Regions from separate parts of the Homo sapiens genome. Here region 1 is linked to region 2. The links come from fine-mapping of genetic effects on gene expression. A gene starts in region 2. The other region holds a variant in brackets. All regions are shown on one strand. Distances are between the middles of the regions.

Region 1 (15,978 bases), 25 kb after region 2:
AAAGTGCTGGGACTATGGGTGTGAACCCATCGCACCCAGACATTTTGTACTTCTTTAATTTGGAGTGTCTTTCCTTTCCATGCATGCCTATAGAATTTATGATTATCATTTAGCCCAAAGAAGACTTTCGCATAAATTCTGCCGTAACCCTTGTTGGAATAAATGTATTCCTCTAAGCTCCCTCTAGCTCTATTTGTATCTTTATTATAAATATTAATATATCTTTCCTTGCATTGCTGTTACATGTATGCACATCTTATCTTCTGGCAATAAATAAGCCTCGTCCCTTGGGGGAAGGGCTAACCTTTCCTCCTTCTGGTATTGCTCAGGATGCTGACCACAGCACCCTGCACAGAGAAGAGGTTTAATATTTATTTTATTACTTAAATTGCATAAGAGGGATCTACCTACTTGTGAAAAAGGTTGCTGTGACCTGTGTTCCTTCTTCTGTGACAAGAAACTAAAATGTACATATATTCTCTTCTTGATGTTCTTTCGAGTTTTATCTCCTTCCTAGATCTGGTTCACCAGATTTCCTCCCCTCCTTTTTTTTCATCAATACAAAACTTCAAGTCGCAGTCTTGCCAATAATTCTTCTTTGACTAATTTATGAGTTAAATAAAGAAAAAATTCCTCACACACATATCATGTCCAAGGTCAGCTCAACATTGCTTTATTCCACACCTCTCAATGGGTGTATGATGCGGGCCCACTTTAACACTGTATCAGTGGTTGATTCCTACGTGCAGATCTTTCTGCTCTTTTTGCCTGAATTATCTTCAATGTTCTTTGTGCAAAAATCACAGCCAGTATAGTCTATTTCCAAAAGAGCTGTAAAGAGGCATTTCAGAAACTTCCCTAAACAATATTTCTTTAAAATGCACCAAGCTGGATAAAGCCGCTTTGTGACCTGCATAAAAACTCCAACGGATAAATGTGTATTACCTTCCCAAAGAACTACTTCTCCAAAGTTATTCCAGCTCTTTCCAGTTGAAATGTCAAACTTGACATAAAAATGAGATGTTCTTGCATCAATTAATAAACAAATAAATCTGTGTTTCCCATTGCCCTTTTCATTCAGTGCGTTTAATGATTTGGTTGAAGTTACTGGTTACCTGTCTGTTTCCTCCATTATATTTTATTCCTCAGGAATAGAATCTACATTCTATTTGCCTTTATGTCTCCAAAACCCGACACAGAGTGGGTGTTCAAGTAACTTTACTGATATCAGTAATTTGCATAGGTAAACAATTCTGAATAGAGTGAATCAAACACAAACTTCAAGTAGATTCAGCAATTCTTACAGGATGGCATTATCACTTTAATGATATTTCTCAATTTGTGTTACAATTTGATTAAACAATTTTTACCCTAAAGCTTTGAGAACAGGTTTTCTGACAATTGTATAATTTGATTTTAATGCTTATGTCAGAGGGCATATGTCTTGGGGAAAGGATAAAAGAAAATAACAGATTGCTAGGTGACAGTCATCAACTGTTTGCCTTCATGAATTTCTTGATTTGTATGGTAGTCATTTCCCACGCTTCTCCTCAAAACAAAATAAAATCAGAATAATAACATTAATCTTTTATGTTTTCCTTTACTTGGCAACTCCCAAATGTGACGGAACCTGGAATTGACTCACATTTTGCTTTTTTGTCCACAGACACAGCAATAGTGAAAGCTGAATCATTCAGCTCAGAGGATTTTAGTGTGTGAGGACATGCAATCTCCAGACAACTTAGGAACTTCCTCTGTTACCTGAGGAACAAGAAATTGATGTGAACTTGTAAGATAATTGAGCAAAAAAGAATTTCCCAGGAGAATAGAAGTATGGCTTATCAATGTTCCTCTCTTTTTAGAACATCAAGCCCACTGCCATAAAGCCTAAAGTTGGGGGGCCTAATCAATATATTTCTGGGGTGGTGATACTACTTTGAATTAATTTTAACAATATCTGACATGGGAGAGTGGAATAGCAGTCTGTGGGATTTGTGAAGCACTTAAAAATATTATCAATTTGCACATGGTATCTATTATAGATTATAGATGTTGCTAAAATAAATATACTATGAATCAGGACACACAAAGAAAGTTACCTGTAACAGGCTACTTTCTTTGAATGGGAATTCAGGTCTGCACAGAAATATATAACTAAGTGAATTAAATTTGTTTCTTAAAATCGTATTACCTGGTGGCACATGCCTATAATCCTAGCTACTCAGGAAGCTGAGGCATGAGACTCACTTGAACCCAGGAGGCAGAGGCTGCAGTGAGCTGAGATCGCGCCACTGCGCTCACTCCAGCCTGGGCAACAGAGTGAGACTCTGTCTGAAGAAAAAGAAAAAAGCAAAGTGAGAGGTGAATTTTCTTTTTGTAAATGGTAGACATTAAGTTAATATGCCAGACAGAAACTTTCTGCAAGCTATTATAATACTAAAGTTTTTATTTGGGAAGGGAAGAAGACAATGCTTACCTTCCTAGACTTACAAGTGAAATGAACATTTGTGAAAGTTAGCTCAGAGTAGCACCCAGAGGGAGATTACTTAGCAAACAGAAGAAGTTGTGTACAGTGTTTGCAAAACCAGAACTTACAGCAGCATCCTCCCTTGATATAAATGCCAGAACTGAATCCAAAACACCCATGTTTTGGGGGCAAGTAGGCAGCTCTTCAGAAATACTGTTAGAATAACTGGGTATAGGTTAATTACCCCAAAATGTTATCCTCAACTTGAAATTCCAAGATCAGTGACGAATTTAAGTACTACCTTCCTTTAAAAGGTAAATAAGTCAACCAAAGAGCAGCAACATTCACCAAGCATCAACCATCTGTTTAATGCTATTTGAGGAAAAACGGTTTCTACCAAAGCATTGAATGAAATTGCTTCTCCTCGAGGAAACTTCCCTGCAGCCCAGAAGAAGAAGCTTGACATGACTAGAACTATAAAGTGATAATATTAATAGAAAAATTATTATCTAGACATTAGGAGTTGACTTAGAGTGATTAACATAAACAAAAGCAAATAAATTACATGGAGAAAAGAGGTTGAAATCTGGCCTTTAAAGAGTAGATAAGATTTGGATAGTTGATAAGGAGAGTGAGGAATATTCCAGATGGAAGGAATAGCATGAGCGAGGAATGGGGTGAGAAGGAGCAAACATACCTACGGCGATCGGAGTCCAGGCTGCATAGAACAATGGGTGGGTTAGGAAGGAATGAGATGACTGAGGCCATGCACTCTACACAGAGGGATCTGCATTTCTAACTGGAGTCTATTAAAAGATCAGGAGCAGAAGAGACGTGATGAATGTGATATTTTAGGAAAATGATCAGGCAATGTTATGCAGGATGGATGAGAACGTGAGAGGTAAGAGCCAGATAGCTGAGCTAGGTAATTACTGGCACAACTCTAGGCCTAATTTGATGAGGGACAGCTGTCAATCATGACAACAAGGAGGAGAACTTGACAGTCATTTTAAGGACAGATCTTGCACACCTTGGTGACAATTCTTGGTGAATGAGGAAAGATTCAAAGAAGAGAAAGAAGCATGGAGGACCCAGTGGGAAACGGAAAGGTTTTCAGCGCCATGCCTCTGGGCACCCCTCTGTCTGGTCTTGCTCATTAGTTTATCAGTACATGCTAGAGAGAGAAGGCTGTCTGAAGACCACACAATCCCGTGAAGAACTGGTAGAACGAGGACCAAAAAGTCCTCAAAATTCTGCCTAGTTGAACTGACTTTAGGAAGATGATGGTCAGTGGTACTATGTGCAGAGTTCTATGCTTAGGTTCAAAAAATTAACTGCACAAGTAAAAGAGTGGAGAACTTTAGTCAACTGGATTGCCAATCAGTCAGAAAATGTCTTAGGAACTTTAGTTATTATTAAGAAGACAACTGAAGGGTAAATAAAAGTAAAGGGTAGAAACAGCTGATAAAAGCGTCACACAGGTTTTAATCATTAGTGGAATATAGTTAGGATAAGGGAGATGGTAGCTCTTTTCCTCCAGGCTGTTCACATCATATCTACAGTACGGGTCCAGTCAAGGGAGCTGCCCTTTCAAATGAGATCAGGCACATTCAGGGTGGTATGATAGACAGGAGCTGCCCTTTCACACACAAATTACAAACTGGAACACTTCCCAAAGCCGCTAGGTAACTTAGATAAGGAAACACTTCTTAAGTAAGAAAACAGGAGGAGTGTGCCAAACTAAAGAAATAACGTCCCACACATCTTTCTTAATTTTCCTCCCAAACACTCAAGGACCAAAAACGAGTCTGCGGGCTACAGGTGCATGACTGTCTCTAATAGGAATATGCCCATTAAGATGCCAGTGGGACTTAAAGGCATATGCTGCAGGGGACAGGGGATGAACTGAGAATGTTTACCTAGGAAAAGGCTTGTTTGATAGCGCTTTTCAAAGTTCTGAGGGGTTATCAAGTGAAAGTGGAATTAGATTTGTTCTTCATGATCCTGTCAGAGGGCAGTACCAGCATTAATGCATAGAAGTTTCAGAGTTTGGGACTTGCTTTTTAGGGCAATTTTCCAATGGTCAAAGATGAATATCTGTAAATTAGACTGACTTGTGAAATAGTGAGCTCCTTGTCACTGAACGTACTCATGCTGACATTAAATGGATACCTGCTGAAGATGTTATAGACGGAATGGCATATATTAGATGGGATGTGAGGTTGATAGCCCCAAGATCCTTTTGAAAGCTGAGATTCTAACATTATATCACACCCAGTTCTCAGGAATGGCGGAATAAAAGGGAACACTGGTACCTCGATAGAAAGGTATACAAGTTGATGAGCAAAGAGTCCAGTAGTTGTTACTTAGTATTTCTTTTATGAGGATCTGTTTATCAGATATCACCTTTCTTCCATGAAAAAAAATTAATTAAATATCTGAAGGCATAGGAATTCAGGTTTCTTTTTTCCTTCCAGAGTGATGGAAAATGAATCCTGCTGAATAGAATGAAAATTAAGACTAGAAAAAAAGTAAAGACAACAGAAAATAAACCTAATTTTCTTCCCTATTTTCTTAAGGGTGTTATCAAATATAGTTCGGATAGTCTAACTAATAATTTAGAGAGTTTTGGTCACAGTTTCAGGTTCAATGCTGTTAGGTTTCAGAGATATGTTTTCCTTATTCTTTTGGGTATGCAATTTGTTATAACCAATTTGTAAACATTTAGTCAGTGTTTCCATGTTTCATCAAATAATTCCACTTCTGAGAATTTATACAAAGGAAGTAATGTGGAATACACAAAAATACTTTATGTATGAAGACATACATCCTAATTTTATTGTTATGAACAATCAGAAATAATTAAACAACACATGATATAGCCACTTGTCTTAGTCTGCTCAAGCTACAGATCGGGTGACTTAAGCAAGAGAAATTTATCTCTCATGGCTCGAGTCTGGGAAGTCCAAGATCAAGATGCTAGACCATTCAATTCCTGGTGAGGGTTCTCGTCACTTGGCAAATACAGCTGCCTTCTCAACACATTTTCACATGACCTCTTCTTTGTGCAAGTGTGAAGGAAAAGACAAAGAGAGATAGCTATCTCTTCTTATAAGGGCTCTAATCCCTTATAAGAGGGCATTGAACCAAGGCACTAATCCTATTGGACCTCATCTAAGGGTAATCACCTCCCCAAACTCCCCTCTCCAAATACCATCACACTGGGAGTTACGCTTCAACATATGTGTTTTGGAGGAATACAACTCAGTCCATAATACTACTCAAAAATGAGTTTTGCAAAACTATGTAGTAAAACAGAACATACTTTTAATACATGAAATAAGAATACAGAAACAACACATGCAATATTATTAAAATCATGGTGAGAAAAACTTAGAAAAAAAAACTCTTCAAAGAAAAATGCCAATATGTTAACTGTGGTTGACTCAGTATGACAAACTATGAAGGTCTCATTTTTTTCTTCTTTTTAAAACTCTTTACTTTCCAGGTTTTAATAAAAATGTATATACAGTTTTAGAATTATGCTGAAAGAAGTAAGTGTGTGAGAACATACCTGCATGTCAACTCATCAAGAAGAACTGATTCAGAGACTATTCTATTACTTTTGAAGTGCAAGTGGGTCTGTGAGGCAAGAAGGACACAGACAATGCAGATCCTGGTCATGTGGAGGGATGGCACCTGTATACCTTGGTCAGAGCTCAGAGGACACATGGTTGGCCCTCAGTAAGCGTTTATTAAACTCAATGTTTCTGCAGTAAGACAGCAGCTGGATACTCTGGGTGACCATGGGAAAATCAGCCTTTGATATTTGGAAGAATTGACTTTTGCCAAAAGTGTATATGCTTGATTGGAAGTATGTTATTAATACATTTATTGTATCTGAAATGCTATGCACTGCTGATCAATTTAATAGTCTTACGGTGTTAAGTATTTTACTTCCAGAAAATGAGAAATGTAATTGATTCACTTTCACTCTTTGTAGATGAAGTGTTTGAGTAGAATTCTAGAATGTCAAGATATCAGATATGCATGTTCCTGCCTTTTGAGAGGTCCACAATTGTAAATCAAATTCCTGCAGCATCTAAAGAATAAATCTGCTTTAAACTTGTAAGCTCCTTTCCTATATGCTATTCAAGTACTCTAATATTTCCTTGTAGACTAATGACTTAGAAATAATGACCTTTGAGAAGGAAATAGGAGAGTGATTTCTCAAGATTTGAAATAATCTAGTCTTAATTATGTAGTAATGTCAAGTATAGACATCACAGCATTCATAATACCTGTCACGGTACACAGTTTTACAAAATAATAATTACCTTTTAATGCCTGTTTTTAGAAAACGAATTTAACAAACTTGGCTTGTCAGTTCTTTCTCAGAATCTCTTTTTAAAAATTGCTCCTGTGTATGAATAATTCTTCATTCTGTCTGCATAAAGCCAGAGACATGAAATTTAGTCACCTTTCCACCCTTACTTTTCTATGCTGCCAGCTCTCTCTCATCATCTACCAGGACAGTGGTTTTTGATGCCACAAGTATGAAGAAAATGATTCAGGGAATTGTTTTCTTTCCTATTTTACTTTTATTTTTTGAAGAAAGAACTGGAAGGTGGTTTCTATGTGTACCTCTAGACCTCTCTACAAACCACTCTGGAGACAATCCTGCCAGCAAAGTGGCCAAATACTATGGGAGGCAATGGGGAAACCACTGTAACTCTACCCTAAGCAAGGCCACAGGTTTTAGCTCTTCGGCCTTTGGAGTAGTGGAGCAATTCTCAGTTCTTTTTAAAACTACTGTAGTTTTAAATGTCTGTTGCCTCCCTCTCTCTTATGTGTCTTGAATTCTTCCTCCTTTGCTGGATGTCGGTTCTTAGGGACTGGTTTCTCTGCACTCAAACCCATCTCCTTTCTATCCTTGCCATCTATGAGCCTTGATTTTCCCTGATATCATTTTTTGCTCAAATGCTTCTCCTTCTGAAACATGCTAAATGGTGATTTTATTTGGGTAGTTTACTGTATGACATTGTATTAGTCAGTGACTGGGCAATTTACAAAAGAAAGAGGTTTAATTGGACTTCCACGTAGTTGGGGAAGCCTCACAATCATGGTGGAAGGCAAGGAGGAGCAAGTCACGTGGCATGGATAGCAGCAGGAAAAGAGAGAGCTTGTGCGGGGAAACTTGCCTTTATAAAACCATCAGATCTCACGAGACTCATTCACTATCATGAGAACAGCATGGGAAAGACCTGCCCCCATGATTCAATTACCTCCCACCAGGTCCCTCCCACAACACGTGGGAATTCAAGATGAGATTTGGGTGGGGACACAGCCAAACCATATCAGACATGTTGCCATATTGATATTACTTGCATATTTACTTTACTTCATGTTTACAAGAAATCTGGGAGATTTTGAGGGGCCAGTGACTAAAATAATCATCCTTAGTTCCCTGTGCTTACTATAGTTATTCCCTGAAACACAATAAAGACTTAAGCTTGTGTTATAAGCTTTGGTGATAAAAAACCAACCTTGGGCTACCAAAAATTTTTAAAGTACTATTAATGAACAGTTTTTTTCCCTTACAGTGGTCATAATTAGAGGGAACGAAAAGGATTTTATTTAGATGACTGCTGGTTTTTGTTTTTGTCCTGAGGCTTCTCTGTATATTCTGAGCTTTTATAGCAAACGTGTATTATTCAGTTAATAGAAAAACTAAATGTCATCAAGATGAAAATAAAAGACATTTTTGACACATAATTCATATTACTCTGAGTCTGCACAAATGCCAGCTACATAAATGTGCCAGTATGCTACTGAATCTGTGTACTTTAAAGGAGATAATATTAATTATTTATTTAATGCTGGCTACCTGTCAGGCTCATCTGTAGGTGCTTTCCATGTATTTTATTGTTCAAACTGTACTTTGGCCCTGGGAAGTGGGTGTTTTCATAGGTCTCATTTTAAAGATGAGGAAGTTGAAACTCACACAGTTTAAGGATCTTACCCTAAGTCATCAAGCATGTAAAAATGACAGGTGAGTGATGAACCCTAGGAGAAAGGCACCAGTGTCCACGCTTCAGCCAAGACATCTACACTGTCACTCAGATGACAGCGCAAATTTTTATAGTACTTTACAGTTTACAAAAGGCAGCACTTTTTATAGCACATGATAGTTTACAAAAGATAGCACTTTTTGCCTTGATATAAGATTTCTTGGCAAGTCACGGAACAGGTATAAGATTTTTGATATAAGATATCCTGACAAGCCATAGGACAGCTATCACTATTTCCATCTTAATGATGCAGAAACTGGAGTTTAGGGAGGTTAAATGTCCCACCCAAGGCCAGGCATTTAGCAAACAACAAAGTTAAGACCAGAAATCATGTCTTACGACTTCAAGCCCTGGCTTACATGTTCTCTGTATTGTAATTAACAGTTATAGGAGAGAATATGTCAGTACATACATGAAAAGGTGATGTTTAACACAGAGATAATGCTACTATATATAACAATGCGTATACAGGTAATCCATTCACTAAAACAAAGGGGAAAAATCAAGATAAATACTTTTGAAGTACTTAGTGCACATGAATTGTGCAAATTTTTGAGCGTATTCCCCAAACAAGTAAAGTTAAATAACTGTGTAAGTCTAGTTCAAAATCTCATTATAGAATAGCAAACCAGCAATATTTCAAAACTAATGAAAATTTTTTTTTCTGGCTCTTAAAAACAATTGTTTAAATGAGTTTCCTTTCCTTTTCCTTTCCTCTAATTATGAGTACTCTGAGGGAAAAATCAGTTTATATAAATATAATAATATTTTTAAAAATCCTTATAGCATAACTTTGCATTTTTATCACTGAAGCTCATAAACTGAACTTGAGCTTTTATTGTTTCCCAGGGAATGACTATAGCTGAACACAGACAAATAAGGAGGATGGTTTTAATCACTGGCCCCTCAAGATCTCCCAGATTTCTTGTGAAAGTGAAGCAAAATAAATATGCAAGTAATATCAATGTGCCAACATATCTAAGCAGTAAGCTAAA[T/G]TTTCCTAAATAACAATCTACAAAATAAAATTTTAATTTGTTAGTACTGTGTATATAGTAAGAAACTATACAAAATATTAAAAAATAAGATGGTATTTTCTGTATAAAAATTGTATGGCCGGGCACAGTGGCTCACACCTGTAATCCCAGCACTTTGGGAGGCGGAGGCGGGTGGATCACGAGGTCAGGAGACAGACACCATCCTGGCCAACATGGTGAAACCCCGTCTCTACTAAAAATACAAAAACTTAGCTGGGTGTGGTGGCATGCGCCTGTAGTCCCAGCTACTCAGGAGGCTGAGGCAGAAGAATCTCTTGAACCCGGGAGGCAGAGGTTGCAGCGAGCTGAGATGGCGCCACTGCATTCCAGCTGGGCAACAGAGCGAGACTCCGTCTCAAAAAAATAAAATTGTATACAGAAAAGAGTAAAACATTTCAATAATCAGTTCCATCTTTCCTTGCATCATTTCTATGGTTCATTTTTTGGTCTGCAGCATAGACACCAATGAAAAATAAATACACGACTCTACAAGGTTAAAAAAAAGACTGATAAAAATAAAAGTGTAGCCTGTATTAAAACAACCTGTACATATTATTAATATTTTAAAATAAAAGATACTGATTTTTGTTTATATTGAAAATGCAGATTAAGATTAGTGTGATAATTTTAGGATATTGTTTATCTTAAAATACAAAGGATGACTCCATTTTTATTCAATTCAATTTTCATATGCCCACCAATGGGCAAGGAAATGGAACATTTTAATCCCTTTGATTTTTAAGCTCTGATCCTTAAGGTAAAAATGAAATACAATATTTTTAAATCAGAAGAAGGGAAATCATCTCTACTGTTATACACCAAACAGCCAAAAAATATTAATTCACCATGATGCAAGAGTGAATTCACATTTCATAAGCACTTTCTGCCAAATAATGTCTAAGACCTTTCCTTATTTTTTGGAACGTTAAGCCTTGTTTTAAAGATTCAGAACTTAGAGGGTTCATTTGCCCAAGGCCACTGTGTGGAAGCAGAGGCATAATCATATGCCTGAAATGGATGAGCTCCCTAGAACCTGTGACAAATTATTTGTGTTTTCACAGTGAGGCAGAGAAGGATCTTGCATTCATTGTTGACTTCATGCCTCAAGATACTGTGAAATTGTCTTCATTACAATCATAAGTTTTTAGGTTTGTATCGATCATCTAATTCTTTATGAATAAAACAAGTTCGAGAGGTGGAAGAGCTCAATTATTTTTGACATATGTAAATATGCTCTAACTAGGTTATATATTTTGGAGTGCTTATTTTTGTCTTTAATTCTCTTAAGCTCCATAGATATCTAACGGTCTGAAGCCTGCATATCATACAAACAGCATAATGCTCACGGCACCCCAATACACAGTATCTAATAGATGAATTATTGCTATATGAAAAGGGATTGGAAATCATCTTTCTGAAATATGGCTTTCTGTCATTCATATATTAGCCAGAGGCTAACATATCTTTTATTCATATTGGAAAAATAAGCCCTATCAGGTATGAAATTGAAGGAAACCCTACACATTTATCTCCTAATCTAATATCACCAAAGCATTAAATGAATCCAAATTAAAGGATATTCCTGCATTTCACTTGCATGGCATATCCAAAGTGTCTTTTCACTCTAATAAGACACGGTCAAACTATGGGCTGACCTCAGCCTTTCCTACCACCCTCACCTTGCCCCCACTATCTTGGGTTTTCCCACTTCTCACCTCTACAGAGACAATTACAAGGAAAGGCTATCCAATTTCTAAGGTTTCTTCTAATTAAACCAATTCAAAAATAATATAATTATGACAGTCAAGAAGCAAACTTGCCTCTAAATATTAGTCCGCTTGGGCTGCCATAACAAAATGCCACTGGATGCCTTAAACAACAGACATTTATTTTTCAGAGTTCTAGAGGCTGGGAAGTTCAAGACCAAGATTTCAGCCAATTTGGTTTCTGGTTAGGGCTCTCTTCCTTGGCTTGCAGAATGCCACCTTCTCATATGGTCTTTGCATGAGAAGAGAGAGAGAGAGAGATCCTACCCTTATGGCCTCATTTATGCTTTATTACCTCCTAAAACCCATATCTCCAAATACAGTTGCATTGGGGGTTGGGGCTTTAATGCAGAAATTTGGGGAGTTTCAAAATTCAGACCATGATACTCTGAAGAGTCTAAGAATTACTAGAACTTCATGAACAAAAAGGGGATGGAGAGAGTCTACTTTGAACTGTGTAGCCATGATTTTGTAGAGAGCCAAAGGTAACAATTACCATACTTCTCCTTCAAAGCAGTGTGAAGGAAATATGCAGGAAGCACAGGCGTGCATGAACACAGAGCAGGGATACAAACACTGCACGTGATCTGGTTTCTTACTCCTAAATGCACTTAAGATGTACACTTACAAAGTACATGAACAAAATTCATAGAAACTGTTGGAAAAATTAAAGAATCAACGTAAGGTCAGAATGTACTGAAGCCAAAACAAACAGATGAAAAAATCTGTCTTCTCTTTAGCCAGGTCCTTTGAACAATTAAATGCTACAATTTTCTTTAAGTCTCACTCCTGCAATTTCCCAAGTTTCACCATGGAGAAACTGTTCCCTTACTCCAGTGTAAAGCCTTTACATTGGTGGTTGCTGTCTGTTTTTTTCCTTACAGGAAGAACAAACGGTATCAGCATCTTCTCTCAAGTAGCTCTTCCTGAGTTCAAAGATCATTGAATTTCCTATTGGCAAGCACTTCAGTTTTCATAACTTTTCCTGCCTTTTGTTAGGTTATTAATTTTTGTGATTATCCTGCAAACCCTCTTCAAATTGTCCATGTTCCTCTTGAGTAATGGAACCAATTTACTCATTAGAGTCTAATCAGGTTTGAGTATAACAGCAGGATTACCTTGTGGTCCTTTCATGTTATTTTTGAAAATAGATGACAATATTTCAAAACAGTGAGACACACAGTCCCTTCTTTAACCTCAGCTGCTATTTCTTACTCAAGGAGAGTTCATTTAAAAAAATAACTAACCACAGATTTTTAATTATTGTTGATACAGAAATCTCTCTGAGCAGATTTAAACTCCAATGTGTTGATTCTTGGACCTTAGTTCATGTAAACTTTATAGATACTCTGCCCCATCAAAAAGCCTGGTCCATCCATATACAAAGTTCATAGGAAGATGAGGTGTATCATCATGAACAAGGCCAGGTCCTTCAAAAAACACATGCCTAAATGTATCTCCCAGCCTGACTGATACCAGCCTGTTACTATTTATCTGGAAGATATTACTGTTTTGCTCAAGATGCCTAAGAGCAAGACCCTTTCTTAGATATGGAGGAAGGAAACCGGAGTAGATTTCTGGAAAGGAGTCTCGAGGAAACTGATGTAAGACACTGGTGACATTTAAAATCGCTAATTCATTTTGAGATCATCCCCTGGGGTCTCTTGCCCCAGGATCCTTATCAAAACACTAAAATAAGTACTCTTTGATTTCATGACTTCACAGTTGATCTTTCCAGACATTTAGTCTTTAGGGGGGATTCTCAAATGGTGTGTCCTTTGGAGCTTGTAAGCCTTGAGTCTAAAGCAGACATCCTATTTCACATCAAAATATGGAGACAGACATTTAATTCACTATTTATGTATATATCTAAATTAGGAGACATTAGCACGACTGAGGAAAAAAAGGTTAATAACACATAAAACATTTAGAGTTCATTTAAATTTATGAGTGGCTGTTTTCTCCGTAGGAACAATATATAACATTTAAAACTGATGAATAACTATATGATAAGATCTCCAGATAGGCGTGAGGGCCACAGCTTCATATAATTCTAATCTGTCTTCAGGTAACAGCTTGATAGTTACTCTCGCAAGTTGACATTTTGTTTAAACTGAATACATAGACTATATTATCGATGTGTCTTGGCTAAATGATGAAAAGCTTGTAGCTTCTGACCTTTAAAATATTTTCTTTCTTTTTTTTTTGTAGGAATCAGGAAAATGTTCTAACAACATGTTGAGTGAGGTAAAATTCTTTGAGCAAACACCAAGGCAGAACCATAATATTTGTAAAAATTACTCTCACAACCCAACCATTGCAAGTTCTTCACTGCACTTACCAGTATCTCTTTTTATATGTCTGAAGGGATCCTGCAAGTTTCAAATAAAAGCCAGCTGCTTCCTGAAAATCTTAAATTTGCCCTTGAAGCCCATCACTGCCCAGCTCTCACTCTGTGACCATGGGGGTCTGGTGACCTGAATGGGACTGCTCCTGGATTCCCCCAGCAGCAGGAAGAGCTCAGCTCATGACGCCTCCCATTAGAGTCCAGCAAAATTTCCTGAGTGATATAAGGTCTTTGCTTCCCTTGGTCCAGCCTAGAGACCAATAGCTAATGGTTACAGCTAACCAAAGGTATCTGCTGTTCTGCTACCCGCAGCTGGGGTCCAAACATCAACATCACTTCAACCTCAAATCCTTTGCCATTGCTCATTAACCCACTGGATCCTGTCTCCTCAGATCACTATATATACATTTAGGTACTTTGTTACAAGCAGATGAATCAGAAATATATATATATATAAAATTTTTCAGCCACTACATATCACACAAACATCCTGAATTTCTTGGAATACTAACAAAAACAACCATATGCAGCTCTTTTAAATGATGATCTTTTCCCAAGCAGAGAAGAAAATTATTGTGAATTTCCATATAAGGGGTAAATTTTGACAAATATAGTCCTATTTTTAAGTAATTTTTTTTTCTTAAGATGAGAAAGTAATTTGTGTTAAATATGCTCAATTTATGTTAATGTAGCCCCTTTTCTTGGTGATTATTTTGCCTAGCTGGGATTCATTTAGAAATTTCAGGGCCGGGTGCAGTGGCTTACACCTGTAATCCCAGCACTTTGGGAGGCTATGGCGGGCTGATCATGAGGTCAGGAGATCGAGACCATCCTGGCCAACGTGGTGAAACCCGTCTCTACTAAAAAACTAAAATTAAATTTAAAAATTAGCTGGGCGTGGTGGTGCACGCCTGTAGCCCCAGCTACTCGGGATACTGAGGCAGGAGAATTGCTTGAACCTGGGAGGCGGAGGTTGCAGTGAGTCGAGATCCCGTCACTCCAGCCTGGTGACAGAGAGACTCTGTCTCTAAAATAAAATAAAATAAATGAAAAGAAATTTCAAGTATTATATCTCCAAAAACTTGCTCTCATACAAAGTTGGAGAAATAAATTGAAATGTGAATCCATGAAATTCTGGATGGTATGGCAGAAGGAGAATGTATTGCCTTTGAAGAAAAGGAGAACTCCACCCAACAACTCTCTCTGTCTCTCTCTCTCTCTCTCTCTGTGTCTCTCTCTCTGTCTCTCTCTCTCTGTTTTAGTGTCAAGTGATCCTTTAAGCGTGTTCTGGGATGTTATGGGCTCAGAAGCATGGGCAGTCCTAGAGTTCTTACCTCCTCTCACTCCATGTGATCTCCCTGGGCAATCTTGCCTCTTCCCAGGCTTTGAATTGGCATAAAATAACATGGTATATTCCCAAATCTCCCCTAATTGGACAGCTGCTGACTGAAATCCGTACCCTGGACACGGAATATCTACATGTGTATCCTAGTACTTTACACCTTCCTCTACCAGAATATAACCTCCACAAAGGCACAGGCTTTTCCGTTTTATTTGCTGTGTTAGCATCAATGCCTAAAAGAATGTTTGGCACAGAATATGCAGTCAATAGATATCCCGCTGTTAGGATCTCTGAGAAAGAGAAAGCAAACTCTCTGAAGACGTAGTGCAAAGTTGTGGAAGTAAACGAAATCCCTCCTCCAACATAAGTTGAATACATTTGAGGCATAACTGTATGTTTTCTAATGTGCAGCAATATTAAAAATCTATTTCACAAACGCTGCTATTTTGTAATCCTTTTAACTCTTATTAAAAAATACTTTAGAGAAATTTATATTTTTATTCATTTTTTCATTCCTTTATGTAAGCAACATTTAGCCTAAATTTGAATGTCAGTCTTTCTGCGTGCACAAAGGAAGTACTCAAAGCTAAGGCAACATTGGTTCCTTATCCTCCTGCATCTTACATTTTTGACATTTCAATATAGAATCCTTCTCTGAAAAAAAAGTAAACTGAGAAAAATCTCATCCTATATTTTTCAACAAAAAAGATTAGTGATTATTAACATTAAAACAAATCACATTTTTACTCTAATTGTTATTGAAAACTCCCATAGAAAGGGTTAGAGAATTTGTAAATAAATGTAGTAGTATTGTATTAGAAAGAAGGTAGTATACTTTAATTACCATCTTTAATTTTTGAATCTTTGAATAGCAATCTTTAATTATGACTTAATCAATGGTGAATTTATCATAATACTGCAAGCCAAAGTCATATACACTTTCATTGTATA
Region 2 (15,978 bases):
CTGTTTTCCTTGTAGTGACAGCTCACTTGATTCATTTTTGAGAAAATGTCTGCAAAATATCCAAGTCTGAATAACCAGAGTTCATCTATTAGTCCTTTCAAGTACAAATGACGTTCCCTGAAAGAAGTACGCAGTTCAGCTTCCATCTGAAACAAGGCCACTGGGATTTTTTTTCCCTTCATCACAACCATTATGCTTCAGTATGAAACAGACATTTATGTGTACATCACACTGTGCACACAGAATATTAAAAAAATGTTCACTCAACGATGAAGATTTAACAAAATTATTATTATTTTTTACTGCTCCATCCCAACATTTTAAAGTAAAACCTGTGTGATGAGCAAGGGGTAGTGAATAACATAATGGCTAATACAGTTTTGTGTCCCTGCCTTGGTTTGTACTTAAGGACCAGCAGTTTTACTTACAACTGCTTTTACACCAGCAATGCAAATGTCAACACAGTGAGTTCTTATGAGTATTAGTATTGTAATAAAGTTCATGTCATTCTCAGTGTTCTCATCTCATGCACTCCCTGAAAGGGTCTGGAAAACACACAGCTTGGCAACACACTACACTTAGAGAACTGCTGATCAAGGCAATGCTTTAAACACGATGGGCACTCAAGACATTTTGAATGAAGGATTGAATGAATGAATCCACATTGGCTTAATCTATAGTAATAATAAAAGTGCTTGTGATGATTCAAAGGGCGTATATGTGAGTGTGTGTGTGTGCACACAATGGAGACTCTTTGACAAAAAGGTTTAGTAGATCCTTGAGTAGAAGTTAGAATGAAAAGCAGAGACCTTGTGACAAAAATTCCATTCTGGTTTAAGAATGAATTAATGTTATTCCATTAACTCCACCACCTTCAGCTACATGAGAAGATCATAACGTTTTTGCTGATTTTTATAGAGACTTGTCAATTGTTATTGTTAATATTTTGAAGAGCAATTTATCCATATAATACTTAACTGAACTACCATTGTGAACTTACAATATATAGGCAAACAAAGATTCAAAGATTTGAAAGACTCACTTGACCAAACTAAGTAGGAATATTGATGGATGGACATGGTGTCTTCTAGACGATTCCTCTCCTAATCACTGTACCTACATTACTTCCTTTATCAGAGAGTTGGTTACAGAATAGGCATGTTTTCATCTTATACAAAGCAGGTATTTTTGCCCGAACTCCTAAGGTCTCATTCTGTTATATCCTAATCTCATTCAAAGGGGATATAACCATGAAAACTAACGTTAAATTCAGCTTCTGTCAGTGGGAATGTTGTGAAGTAAGTGTTTGTTAAGAGTGAAGCATATTTGCTCCACTTCCAGAAAACCCTTAACAACAATGGGCAAAAAGGTAGTTGATTCTACAATCCTACCAACATTGTGTGAAAAGGAATAGATTATGTAAACTAGCAAACCTTTAACAACAATGGGCAAAAAGGTAGTTTACAATCCTACCAGCATTGTGTGAAAAGGAGTTGATTATGTAAATTAGCTTGATTGGGGTGTCCCATCTTTAAGAAAAGTATTTATTTTCTAGTAGTCTTACAGCACGACAAGTGTAATCTTGGAAAAGCTCAACAAGGAAACTTCAAGGGCAGCAAGAATTTCAGAAAAAAAATAGTGAGTAAGGATAGTTGGTGTCATGTGCTTAAGGTGTCCTTGTCCCAGGATTGTCTAATTGTGCAGGTACCAGCTAAACAGATGTGGGGTGATTAACCATCCACTCCAAGGAACACATGTGGGAAGGTATCCGTCAGTGGAGCAGGTTTGCAAATACACGACACACGAGACTCGCCACTGGCCTTAATGAAGCCTGCATCATTCGGTGCTGAAAGCAAAAGGTGAGGTCTTTTTTTTTTTACCCTCTCTGACTTCTGTAATGCTTCTCTCATGTTCTCTTTAAAAAAGTCATTTTGACCCTTGCTGATCTGTGGAGGCAGAATGCCCAATTAAATTACTTTCATTATAAAAGCACATACAGCCAAATACTTTTTATAGCACACGATTTCAAATTCATAATAAGCATGAAGGAAAAGTAGCACAAAAGCTTTTTAAAATTATATAGAGACTTTTAAACAATTGGTGCTACCAAAAAAGGTCAGAGAGAGTGCCTCACTGTGGAAGGTCCAATTGGCCAAGAAATTATGAAACTGACATTTTAAAATAAGAATACATTTTAATATTCATTCTTTTGGGGTCAGGTGCAGGCTACTCAGAATAACAATTCTGTCCAAATAGAAAATGAAAACCTTCCAGGAATAATTACCTTCAAAGCAGACTATAGCTCTCCATTTAAGAACTGCATTGAAACATGACAGTAACTTACATTTACTGGGTAGGGACTATGTGTCAAGCACATTGTTAGTGCTTTATTTTGATTTTTTTTGATCTTCACAATAACTGTATGGGATAAGTACTATTATTATCACTATAATACACATGAGAAAATTGTGGCTTAGAGCTTAAATGATTTTTGTAAATTTTTGGAGACAGTGAGTGGTGGACCCAGTAACCAAACTAAAAGTTACTAAGTCTAGAAGCTAGTTCTATTGTTAATGGTAGCTTTCCAGAACATTTACGATTTTAAGTTGTATAATTATTAATTTAGGCAAAGAGTATTCAATAAGTACTGCTATCAGGTACTGCTAGATGCTGGGATTGCAATAATGAAATTGTTCTTATTTATTAACAAACACACAGTCTCATCAACACACCATTTCTTGAAGCTGGTTCAATAAGACATTTATTGTCATGTCTAATTTCACAGAAGAAAAGCTAAGCCAGCGGTTGTTAAGGATTTTACATTCAGCAGAAAACAGAATTATTGCCCATTGATTTCAGTCAAGTGTTCTGTACACTAGATATCACCATGCATCTTATAGAGAATCAGACAAGTAATTGCTGAAGCCATTAAAGTCAGTTCTGAGCTCCACAAAACCTGATACAACTACCTGATAACCTCTTTAGGTATAGGAACTACTTTAATATGTTATGCTTAAACCCAGCCACGAGGCAAATGAACATCAGGTTTTTTCAAAGGTAAATCAAGATTAGTCACAATGTAAGAAAATATGGCGGAAAAAAAACTAAATGATCAATAAATAGAATCTAGTTTTGTAACATATGGCACATTAACCTCATAAAATATTATCCATCTACTATTATTTGATTCAAAAGTTCGGTACACATAGGAGTATTATTTTAATGCATGCGTAAAACCTACACAGACTCACAATGCACCAAAATTACATGTTAATGTAACAGCATCTAGACACAAAATAATTAGAATAGCACATGATCTACAATGTGCTAGAACAAAGGTCAATACGCTTTTCAGAAAAGGGCCTTGGCGGTTCCAAAGGCATTGTTGGAATTACTCAGCTCTGCTGTTGTAGTGCACAAGCAGTCATAGACAACATGTAAATGAACGTGCATGGCTGTGTTCCAATACAAATTCTCTTATAAAAACAGGGAATGGGCCAGATTTCACCTGAGGGTTGTGATTTTTCTGATCTCTGTGCTATAATATACAAGTATGGGGCAGTTTAAAGACATTTACACTGGTGTTTTTGTAATATTTTATAATACTGCTTAATAAATTTTAAGAAAAGTCTGTACATCTGCATAATCAAGTTATACATTTGCTCACTTGAATTCAAGCCATTATTTTTACCCAGTCTAAATTATTTTTACCCAAAGCTACCCAAGAAGGTAGCTTTACCTTTTTGAAATAGTTTGCAAATTCCAGACAGACGTCAGGGCAAAGAGTCTTTATAAAGCGTTTAGCTAGACAGCAAAGCTTTCATTACTGTTGGTTAAACAATCCAAAATCCATGACCCGGCCACCAATCAATCAACACGCATTTACAGATTGATGACAAAGTATTCTGCCCTGTTCTAAGCACACTTGTCAGACAGTCTCTCTCCTGTCAAGCAGTTTAAAATCTAATAAATGAGGCAATTATGTTATCTTTATTTATTCAGTGAGACATTTTGGCATAGAAACATCAGGCATGTCCAGCAACTAGAAACAAAAAGTATATCCTGCTGCATACGGTGGAATTACTCTAGTAGATAAAAATATCTTTTCATCGATTTTCAGGAGAAATATATTCAATTTTAATTTGTATATGCAGGCTTTTTACCTGATCTGTTTACTCATTGATAACATAGTATTTTGGGAAAAAATGGTCAGTAATTCACCAATTACAGGTATTTATGTTTCCCAAGCTTCAATTTAACCCTTCTAATGGTAGAAAAAGGACATAATCATTTCATAAAGTATGCTAGCGTTATACTACCAAAACAAAGAAAAATACACTGCCATTATCCTCCAGACAAGAATAAAGCTTACTAAATACTTTTCTAAGTCTAAAATAGGTTGTTGGAGAAGGAAGCAGCAGCTAGATCAAAGATAACACCATCCTAAGGTGCTTAGTCTGTATTGCTAAGTAATAGGAAGAGCAACACAGCTGAGAGTGCACACAGGCATAGCAGAGGGGAATAGTAACAAGATTAAATATAACAATAAGTAACTGGGCTGGGCATGGTGGGGTGGGTCATGACTGTAATTTCAGCACCTTGTGAGGCTGAGGCAGGAGGACCGCTTGAACTGGGAAGTTCAAGACCATATTTAGATGGTAAAACCATAAGGCCTTGGTAGTTGATTAGATGTGGGGGCCAGGGAAGAAAGAGCTGGCAATTAGAATTTCTAGCTTCAATAATTTGGTAAAACATTGGAATATGACACACAGAGACATCAATGGATCACGGGGAGGAAGATGAAGGAGCTCTCTTTCAGGTATATTTGGAATATCTATGTGAAAATAAATGCCCAACTAAAGAATCCTTACCCTAAACATTATCTTATTCTCACATTAGCATTTATTGAGTGTGCTGTATGTATCAGACACTGTGCTAAGCACTTCACCTCTATAATCCCACTGAATCCTCCCAACAGCCCTACTGATATATGCATTTTACACCTAAGGGAAATAGAGTGAGGTTAAGTAAACTTCCAATGCACAAACAATTAAATGGCAAAGCCTGGATTTATTAACTCATAATTCTAAAACTGACTCTTAGCCACTACCATATATGGTGATAAAAAGAAAAAGAAAACAGCTTAATCTGAAGAATACTACAAAGATATTATCACTTTGCCAATATCAGCCCCACAGGTATACTGTTTTGGGCTTTGCCATGAGTCTGCTCAATAAACAACCTAATACAGAGAATTAGACTTACTTCATTTCATTAAGAGCTCAAGAGGCACTTCTGTAAATCTGGGAGGTTTATAAGGGCCAGGATGCGTCCATGCCCTCCTAAGTCAACATTCTTACCAAGTCGACATTGGTCCAGCATCTACAACATGACCAAAAAAGGCAAGGCTTCTGACTTTGGGCCAATATTGACTTGGATGGAAAAAAAAAAGGCAGGTTTGTGGGTTTTTAAGCATATTTGAGAATACCAGAGGCTGTACAGCTTGGCTTCAGTGAATGTCAGCTCAGGGCCAAAATATACCCATTCACAAAATGAAGTTTGTTTCCCTACTTTTTGTGGTGAAAGCCCCTGGAGTTTTGGCAGGCTTCTCAATCTGGCACTCAGTTGAACTGCTGCAGACAGGATGCAAACTTCTACTGGCCTATACTATGAGGCCTCATCTTTAAGTTCTAGAATCCCAAGAGGCTAAATGGTGAGAAGAGGAGGGCCTTAAAACGTATTAGCCCTGGGCCAGTCATGTTGACCCACAGCAACTCCTACTCTAATTCTACACACATCTCATACAATTTGCCCCAAATGATGGGGATTATATTTAATCACCTTATATCCTGCAAATGATCAGTGTGGTGAGACAGAACATATGAAGTACTAAGCAGTGTCTGGCATACAGGAATTTTTCGATATATGGCAGCAATTATTACAGATATTTGTAGTAGTACATTTTAGTAATAGCCATATGGGAGCTTAATAAACATTTGTCTCAGTATTGAATTTGGCAACCCTTATTGACCCATTATTTATTTTGAAAGACAAAGTTGAAACAGTCCAAAATAAGGCAAAATATAATTTGATTCATGTGATCTCTATTAAGATAATATACATTGTTAACCTTTCAAAGAAAAATATTGACAAAACATTGACATTTAAAAATTAAAGCTATAATTAATTATACTTTAGAATGCATTTATTTTTTTCCTTATTTTATCCTTAGAATACCTATAGAAATTACTTAGGCACTGTTTTATCCTTATTGAACAGAATTGTTTCATGTATTTAGCATTTCTGGCAAGTAATTGAGTGCTAGTGCCTGGTGTATAGCTAAATAAATGGACATAGTTACCTCTTATTAATGAAAGCCAGTTTAGATATTATTGACATTCCAACTCAACAGTATTTCTCACCTTACAGAGGTGAAATGAGAGATAGAAAGCAGAGGATACTGAGAAAATTCAAAAGTCTCTATTGGCTCCAAGTGCTAATCTAGGTACAATATATGCATCAACATGGAATTTTTGTACTTTGAGGAAAACGAATTAGTACAGTGATGACATAATCAACCAATTCTAGTTGATTTTTATTTCTCTTTTGATTTTTTATATTCCCTAGTTGATACATGTTCATATTTACCCTGGAATGTGTTAACAATGAAAAAAATAAGTTATAAGAAATATGAGATTCAATAAGGTACAATCATGTTTATGAATGTTCTTAACCATAAATGCATAGCTTGTCCAGGCCAGAAACAATTCAGTTTCTGAATTCAATGCCACTCTTGAATATGTTAACTCAGTTCTAAATGAAATGCATTATTTGTACAAAGTTCTACTTAATATTTAACATAATGAAGATTGTCAATTCCAATACATTTGCACTGCAGAAAATGCATTTGTATTGCTCAGAGTGCTTAATGAGTAATAATGCAATGAAGAAAAACCAAGACTAAGAGATGTGAACTAAAAACCAAAGTCACAACTCCTATAGGCAATGATATTAAGACTAGAACTTAAGTCTTAAGATTTTGTTATTTGTGTCCTTTTACTGTTAAATTGCAAGAGGAAAGTCTTTTTAAGGTAGCAAAAATAATATTTGTGGGGAGGAGACAGCAATAATATCTGTTCATGCAACTAACTAGGTATATGTGAGTGGGTAGGCACATAAGGCCAATGGGCACTGGGAAACATGTCTGTCAGGTTCTTTCTGTTTTGTTAGCTATTGAGTCAACCTGACTGAAACAAAGATGCATTTCACAAGAGTGAAAATTGGTTTCAGTCAATCCCTTTAGCATTTTCCAGGTGACTACATTTTTATAAATCGCCTGACAAAATCAAGCAGTTACATTGCTTCACAGACTTTGGCTGGAACATTAAAGGAACTGAATGATTTATGGAGGAGAAGATCAAATAGGTTGTGTTGTATCTAAATGCCTGTCCCATGAACCAAAAGCTGAATGTGAATTGGCAAATTAATGATTTTTCATTTTCTTCTAGGATTTCATGGTTTGGAATGCCTTGTGTTGAAGGGACACATTTCACCCCTTTTAAAAGTGCATCTTAAAAAAAAGTCACTGTCCTGCAAATCTCCCACATCAGCTCTGATTTCCCTCGCTCACCTGCTGCAATATTTATTTTTTCATGCCACACCATTACATTGCTTTGTTTTGTTTGTATTTTTCTCCAATTGTTTCATGAGTGCCTATGATACACACGAGTGCATATAATCTGAATCAGATTATATAGTAAAGACTTCTTTTGTACTTCTCATACTGTAGAAAGATAATACCTATTGGCTATTCCATGATGAATTTTCTGTGTAGGAATTAATTCAATACATGTTCTTCATTTGTACTGACAATATGTAAAGGACATTTTTGAGTCCTTTTCAATCCTTTAGGAGGGCAGCTCTTCTGTACTTCATTAAAATACAAACTCTTACTTTGATTTACTTTCAGCTCTAAACCTTGTTCTCCCTGTTAATGAAATGCATTTGTATCATGCATGAGATACATACTTCTTATTATGATTTAGAACCTTCCAAAACATTAATGTTGCTCAATAGAATTGCCATACCTAAGATTTAATACCATGCCTATCATTTTCTTGTTTCTCATTCTCTCCATCCTGAAGTACCGGGATTCTCATATAAGTAACTTTGCCTGAGCTTGGGTAAAAGTTGACTCCTAATGTAAGGTGAACTGGAGAAGAACATTTCTTTCACCTCTTTCCCTGATCTTATCTTTTTTATTCAGCATTCCCTCTAAAGAGAATTTCACTCACAGAATTAGAGAGAGACTCTGTACTCTTTTATCGTATCACTTTTAGAAACTAAAACCCATTGGATTTTTTGAGAATTAGGAATCATTATACTGTGCAGAGTTTGGGCTTTTTGACACATTTCCATTCCTTCAATTGAGCACTCCTTTTATTGGATCACTGGAATAAAATCATGATTATTAAACATGTCACAATATACAATTCTCATTTTATAATAATTTATGAAGACCTTGCTTAAATATATGTTCTCAAATCAATTTAAGTTGAGCACATATTAAGCAAAAATAAATTTAAAAATGCATCTTGCCTCTCAACAAAATATTTCCTTGCCTGAGTTGTTCAAACTCCTGCAGATAAAGCATATTTAAATAAAGATAAGGGGCTATCACTTGCTCTTATTTTCATTATATTCAGGAGATGACCACTTTGATTATAAGTAAGAAGACTTAAAAATACTCATGATTTCCAACATGAATTACAGCACTTAAGACTTTGTCTTCTCGTTAAATCATGCTTATTCGTGCATTTTATATAAAAACTCTGGAGAATAACTTAACAGGAAATCTAAAATAAGAAAAAGAAACACTGAAATTCCCCAAATCTCTATAGATAAAACCCTTTAAGGCTTAGGATTAAGCATTTGAAAATATCAGGAGCATTTAAAATATGTTCATGCTTAGCTTTCTGTTCACTTGCTATCTGCAACATGAAAAGTCTGGCGTTGAGTGGCACGAGAGCATTACTGTTTCATTTTGATAATCCAAGTTTAATTTTAATACATCTTTTAATTTTACTTTAATTTAGGTTTTTTTGGGGTTTCAGAGGCAGAGCACTACTTTGTTTCTGACTAAATGACAAAAATCATTAACTGCCAGTGACTATATGAACATGATGTGAACAATATATGCAAAGAAACTAGGGCAAAGTTTTTTGTTTTAGAAAAACATATACTTATATTCTATATATTCTGAATGATCCTCATATAAACAACACAACATACAATATCTCAAAATGTTACTACAACACGGCTCATTACTTTGCAGGTTGCAAACGCAGCGTGTAAATCCTTTCCTCTCAACCATAGTAAGTAAAGACACAGATACAACACGGTTTGCAAGTCTTAGCTCTGCTCTGTAAACTTACTGCTATCATAGGTCTTCTGCATAAGTATTTTTAGTGCCCAGTTCCTAGTTCAGTGCTTAAAAATCCTGCCGATCCCTGGGTTGGAACAAAGCTTTCGGAAGCAATTAACTGCTTTTGCCATCCCAGGTGCCAAACACACACACAATGTCCTTTTATTTGTGGAAATACACACAGATCTATTCTGCATGTGCTCAGAGCTCAACACAAATATCACCCCTTTCCCACAGGCAGCAGGAAGGATGTGGTTTGAAGGACATAGTTGCTTCATCTGAATGTTCAGTTGTTCAAAAGATCTCTTGTTGCTACGCTGAGTTGCGGCTCTACTACCTACGTTTAAGAAGATATAACCAGGCCGTGCCCAAAATCCCACTTTTATCTATTTAAACAGGCATTCAAGTAGATCGTGCAATTCTTTGCCCCTTACCTTCAGTGGACACATGCTGAAAATGTGTTCATAATCAAAAGACATTCCCCAGAGCTGATGACCCAGTAATTCCTTACGTATACAGGTCAGCTGCAACAATACCGTACTAAAATCGCCAGATGAAATGGTCAGAATTACCCGGTGGCTTGATAAAATCAGCTTACTTTGAGTCTAATCCAAGGATAAATATACAGAAAGCTCCAAGCAGTGGAAACTGTAATCACCTTAGAACTGCCCCCTGAAACTGTAATACTGCCAGGAAAACAAATATTTGCTGAATTATAGGGTGCTATATTGGTTTTACCTGAATGCAATTAAGGGCTAAATAACTACAAGCTACTGTTTAAAGTGGACAGGTATAACCAAGAGCAGGGGACTAATTCTGCCAACACCACTAACACCAGTCCCCAAAAACCCTAACGATACACTCAGAACAAGCAAACCAGTAGATCTGATTACCAATTTCACATATCCTGCATTCTTGGAGCTCACCCATTTCATCATTTCCGGACACTCAGACTCTAACTAGGAACACCTAACTCATAGCCCTGTATTTTGCTAAGTTTTTCCTCTACTCTTGAGTCCTCCTTTAATCTATAGAGTGTTATTCTACACTGGACCTCTCTCTTATTTTTTGGAGTCTAGCATCTTGCATCTTCCTGGAGCCCCAACTAAACTCATAACTTCTAAGCTTCTAAGAAATATGTAAGTTTTTCAACTCTGTACATTAAGTCTTTTTGTGACCTTAAACTTACCTTAGAAAAAGATGTACTGTTAGTTACCAACTGCTTCTTCAGCCTTGCGTATAATGCCTGTTCCTCTTTATGACTCCCCTTCAAACTTACTAGCTCATGAGGATCTGTAATTTAAGAAAAGAGCTTTGGCAACAGGGTAGTTAAATTGCTACTAGTGGTTACTTCTGAATGACTTCAAGTTGATTCTTTCCTTGTGTTTTCTTCAATCACTTCTTATTTTTACTAATCAGTGTCACTATGTGTGAGCTATGACACTCCTTAGAACTATGCAAGTAGGCTTCAAAAAAAAAAGAATGGAAATTTGATGAAAATGTTTTACTGCTAACACTCAGCTAGAAATACCACCTCTGAAAAAGTGTACAAAACTCCATGTACCAGGTGGAATATTACTCCTGACCCAGAGTATTATATAAACATCTGTATTTTCTTCCCCAATTAGAAACAAATAGCTCTTGATGAAATGTCTGTGCCCTGGTCCTTCAGAAGTCAGTATCTGACTCTAAGATGCCAGGAAAATTTCACCTTGTGTCATGTTTCACGCTGAGGAGTTTGTATAGCGCTAGTGTAAACCTTGGTCTCTAAGACACATTCCATGGTGAATTTATTTCAAATTCCAAACTGAGTTTATTCCATTTCACTCACTTAAAATTCCAGTTGTGATTGGAAAATATACACTTCATTTACCTTCTGCGCAGTGTTCAATGAACCGCTTGTCATGTTTCACCCTAGTAGGTTGCATTTCAATCCTGAGTGTGTCTGTGTAGCAGCTGATTAAAGCTTTGCTATTATTTGTAAGGGATGTTATAACATGCACTGTCATCTTTCTTGGCATTTTTTGAAACGGTAACATGAGGATTCTGGCAAAATAATATGGTAGTTGCTACTCTTTCCTTACACCTATACCATTTACTTGTCAGTAAACAAAATCATGTTTTCAATGAAGTAGACAAATAGAAAACTCAGCTTCCCTATCCTGTTGTATCTTGTGCCACTCTCTATAAACTGACATGGCATAAAATGACATAGCTTGATAAACTGCTGGAGTCAAACACAGATTACTGCCATTTAGCTAGAGCAGGACACGTCACTTGAGGACACGGCCCCAAGGAATGTCAGTTCTAGAGGAGGAAGGATAGAACCGAAATGAGGGATCTGGTTCTTTGTTGTGTGTGGCTGAATTTCCCGGACATTGTTTAAGGCAGAAATGACAGGTAGCATAAAAGAGCAAACCTTACCTTAAGAAAGCAGATTATATAAGCACCCCCCTTGAATCCCAAATTCCTGCCACACTAGGACTTTACCACATAGGTTATTGCTCAGATCTGATGAAATGTTAACTCCAATCCGTAACCAACTGATAACAACCAAAAACCACATTAGTCATTATTTACTAAGATAACAACGATAAAAATCATGTGTGTGTGTGTGTGTGCGTGTGTGTCTTTCCTTGAGTTCTGTATCAGGATTTTATAATGCTGAGAGAGTTGTCTATTAAGAAACATGTTTCAACTTTATTCCAAAGAAATGGTCCCCACTACTCTCTGTGAAACTGTTAATGTCCAGCATGGCTCTTGTTATCAACAGGATCTATTCTATGCTTTCCTGGTACCAGCATAATTAAGTCAACAAAACTGGTTGCTTTCAAAGCCAATAACTATTCAAGGCTACTTCCTCTGCAAGGGCACAGTTTTAATACACCCATAAGCCTTATTCAGGATCTCAATCTTTTGCAGTTGAAAAATGAATCCAAGAACACCGTTAGAGAAGCTCACAATTCAACTCAGATCTTACATTTGAACTTTTTCTTTTTTGGAAAATGTACTCATGGTAACTTTATTCATGCAAAAAAAAAAACTGGAAGTGATTGAGAACATTTGTTTTTCTGGCATTGAGGACATTTCAATTATTGTCCCTTAATATGTCATCTCATAACTATTATCTGGAACAAGTATTCTTCAAATATGCCATATGGATGGTTAAAATCAAAACAAACTATTAATAACAAATCTAAACAAAGCCAAACAACCAAATACACATACAAATAAACCAAATGAACCCTCCTGTACATTCTCATTTTGTCAGAGAGCTACATCCCCGCTCCCCTTGAGCTACGTTTGGGCCCCTCCCTTCTTCTAGCAAGGTTTTTTAAAGTTTAGGTTCTTCTTTCCTTTCCCTTCTTCTCCCTTCTCCTCTTCCTCTTCTTTTTTTAATTCTATTTTAGGACCCACTGGTTAGCTTTCCTTATTACCAAATTAAAAATATTATTTATTCACTCTCTTGCAAAAAAAGGCTCTTTTGAGAGTCACACTGTTTAGCTGTAAACATCATTTCTCCCTGTGAATGGCTGGAGTCCCAGTGAAGCCTTCTACATTTAACAAAGGCTTTGGTACATGGCTTAAAGTCTTAATATCCAACCCAAGATCCTGGATGACGTCAATGCCCTTTTCGATTATCAACCAGCACCTGCTTTATAGCTCCCTATTATTCACTACAATAGTCTTTTTGAACCTCCACTCTGCTTCAGCCAGTCACAATCATGGAGACCCCAAACTTGGCCACCTCTATACTTGTTCACTCTGTGAAGTTATTCTCTAAACAGCGCCAACCAACTTTTCAACTCTACCGACTTTGTATTTCCACTCCATCAGTTCTACAACCTCATTCATATCTCAAATCCCCTAAAAGTATCACTTTCTTTACTTCTAAAAGCTCCCTTTGGCTCTACTTTCTTCTCTCTTTAACCTAGACATCATAGCCTATCACTTCAAACATCCTCCTGTTAGTACCCACTTCTCGTTTGAATTCTTGTCGTCCCTCCACATTTTCCTCCAGAATTTCAACCCAAGATCAATGCAATTATTTTATGTCTGTTTTCATACACCTGGGTTGCTACATTCTGGTTAACTTCATGTGACTCTGCAGAATGGTACTGGTACAAAGCCCTGGTCTTCAACATCACTAGGACTTCAACACTGTCCAAATTTCCTTCCACATCTCCTTTTCTTTCAAGCTTTAACTGTTTCTTCCAATCCAACAGTATGTACAAACTGCCACTTCCTCACTCTCAGCAAAGCCCTCCTGTCCTAATTTACAGGTAAAATAGCCTGTGAAGTGAGAATTAACTCAATGTCCTTTCCTCCCTATGAACTGATTCCAGCCTAACTCTTTGCCACCCAACTCATTAGAAGAGATATCTTTTCTCTTATCCAAAACTAATCTTCCCACTTTTACTCTGGATCCTACCTTCCTCCCTCTTTATCTGTTTTATTAGCAATCCCACTTCTCACACAAACCTTCAACCTCTCCCATCCCATTGGTTTCTATGTGGTGGTGCACTGGAGCTGATAGCTAATTGTAGGTATCTTCTCAAATCTGCATTCAATAAGGTATTCTGAATGCCTTCTGCATTCTTCCATGATAGTTTTACTCCAGCCATGGTGACGGTATTTACGCCATGGTCATCTGTAATAGCTACAAATTAGAGCTTTTATTTCTCCTCTGGAGGCCTGGTTTATCAGAACACCACTGCACACACGCCTTCTCAAAACAAAACAAATAAAATCATTGACAAAAATTCTGGTGCATAGCCTATTTCCTCTTCTAGTTATAGTGCCCTCTGTCCTTTTATGTTCTAACTACTTAAAATATGTAGTGTGTACCCAATCATTTGCTCTTAACCAATTTAAATATGCCTTTAATTCTTAACAGTTCTTCATTGAAGTTGATATTTCCAAGGTAATCAGTAACTCATAGTTGATAAACCTAATGGGTCCTTCTCAGTTTTTACTCACTTAATCTGTGGTATTTGATATTGTTAGCCACTCCCATCTTATAATTCACTCTTTCTCTGGCTTCAGGACATCATCATTCCCTGAATTCCCCCTTACCTCCATGGTCTTTTCTTTTCTGGGTTCTTTTCATTTGTCTACCTTTTAGCAAGTTTTTCCACAGTACTCTTTCTCAGCTTAAACTATTGGCAAAATCTTCATCCCATGCAATGCCATGTCTCTCTCACATCTCTCTCACATGCTGTAGTTACCACTGTACAACTGTCCACTTAGGTCATTCAAGACATCAGGCATCTAAAATCCCCAAACTCATCAAATTTTGCCTCCTTCCTTGTCACCTCACCTACTCTGGTTCTCCTGCCCCTCAGTCTATTCTTCACAACTGAGCTGAGCTAATATTTTCTAGGCACAATTCTGATTGTATCACCCCTGGCTTAAAACACTTGAATTTCTTCCCTACCTCTTCAGCTACTTCTGCAGCCTCATTTTCCACTAGGCTTTCCCTTCCTGCTGTGTTATGTGTTTGTGCAAATTCTGTCCTTTCTGTCTCCTCCCCGTCCTGTGCCTGTGCACCCTTCTACCGCAGGGCCTTGGCACAAGCTGTCTTCTGCCTCTGCTCATCCCTCCTCACCCAAGTAACTCTGATTTACCTTTCGGGTCTCAGCTTAACTGGACCTTCCAAGAAGAAACGTCCCCTGAGCATTCTTGATGAGCTCACATCTCACTATCAGGTGCTCTCAGAGCACTCTCCACTGCCACCTTTTATCTGAAGCATTGTGAGTTAGGTGCAGTATCAGAAGAGCAGCTTTTTGTTTATAAAATTGCTAACACCTGTTTCTCTCTTTAGATGACGAGCTCCATGAGGGCCAAGGCTCTCCATTCTTGTTCACCACTGCACACTCAGGAGCTCATGGCATGCTGGCTGTGCTAGTTCTGTGAGTATTTATTGAATTAATGAATGAAGATCCTGGAAATTTCCAGAAGTTCTTCAGATGGGAAAACTAATAGAAGGCTGGGTTTCCCGCAGGCAAGCAAAAAGCAGTTTTAAGTCTAAGAACTAAGGCCTTGAGAGACATCTTCTAATTTTGTAAGCATTGCTGGTTAGGCATACACAGATGAATTACCCAAATGATATGAAAGAAATCTGCCGTATTAACATCATGTCTGGTTTAAAGAACAGGGCTTAAAACCTTAAAGAGGTACATACATTTCTCTGGGCTTATGTTTTGTCCCTCGTCCATAAAACAATTTAATGGAACACCGTTTTTTATACTTAAATAAGGTGATCACACAATTTATCATCCAGACTAAGGCATGTTTGTTAGTGAAAGAGAGTAATCATAATTGTGCCTCAGCAACAGAGGTAAACTGCAGAGGTCTCCAGCAAACTGGGACAAGTGGTCACCCCAGCTGTGGCTGACATAACAGTATGATATAGGGAAATGCAAAATTCTCTGTCCATGGAGATCTGTGATGGGAGCTATAGAATAACTAAGCCCAACATAGAGGGATGCTTCTCATCAATGTGATGTTGGTGTTTGTGCAAATTGTAGAAGAAGCAATGCATCTTCAATAAT

Alleles and levels. Alleles are on the strand shown, and positions count from the first base shown. SD is a standard deviation of normalised expression in the study named.
As copies of T replace G in region 1, the expression in Th1/17 cells of the gene that starts at base 10,394 in region 2 goes up (large effect, 0.92 SD a copy in Schmiedel 2018).

Evidence for each region. PIP is the estimated chance that this variant, and not a neighbour inherited with it, causes the effect. A credible set is the group of variants that fine-mapping cannot tell apart.
Region 1: its variant is the best candidate, but not a certain one, in a credible set for the expression of CHRM3-AS2 in Th1/17 cells (Schmiedel 2018, PIP 0.56).

The regions. Positions count from the first base shown.
Region 1 is chr1:239,688,981-239,704,958 of GRCh38, reverse strand. The region is part of intron 5 of CHRM3 (cholinergic receptor muscarinic 3); the gene reads right to left. Among named protein-coding and RNA genes, the nearest start is that of CHRM3-AS2, 22 kb to the left of the region's middle. The variant T/G (reference allele first, on the strand shown) is at 9,534.
Region 2 is chr1:239,713,535-239,729,512 of GRCh38, reverse strand. CHRM3-AS2 (CHRM3 antisense RNA 2) reads left to right here and starts at 10,394. Exons shown (of 3, transcript NR_103776.1): 1 at 10,394-10,563; 2 at 15,249-15,336. All of the region lies in intron 5 of CHRM3 (cholinergic receptor muscarinic 3), which reads right to left.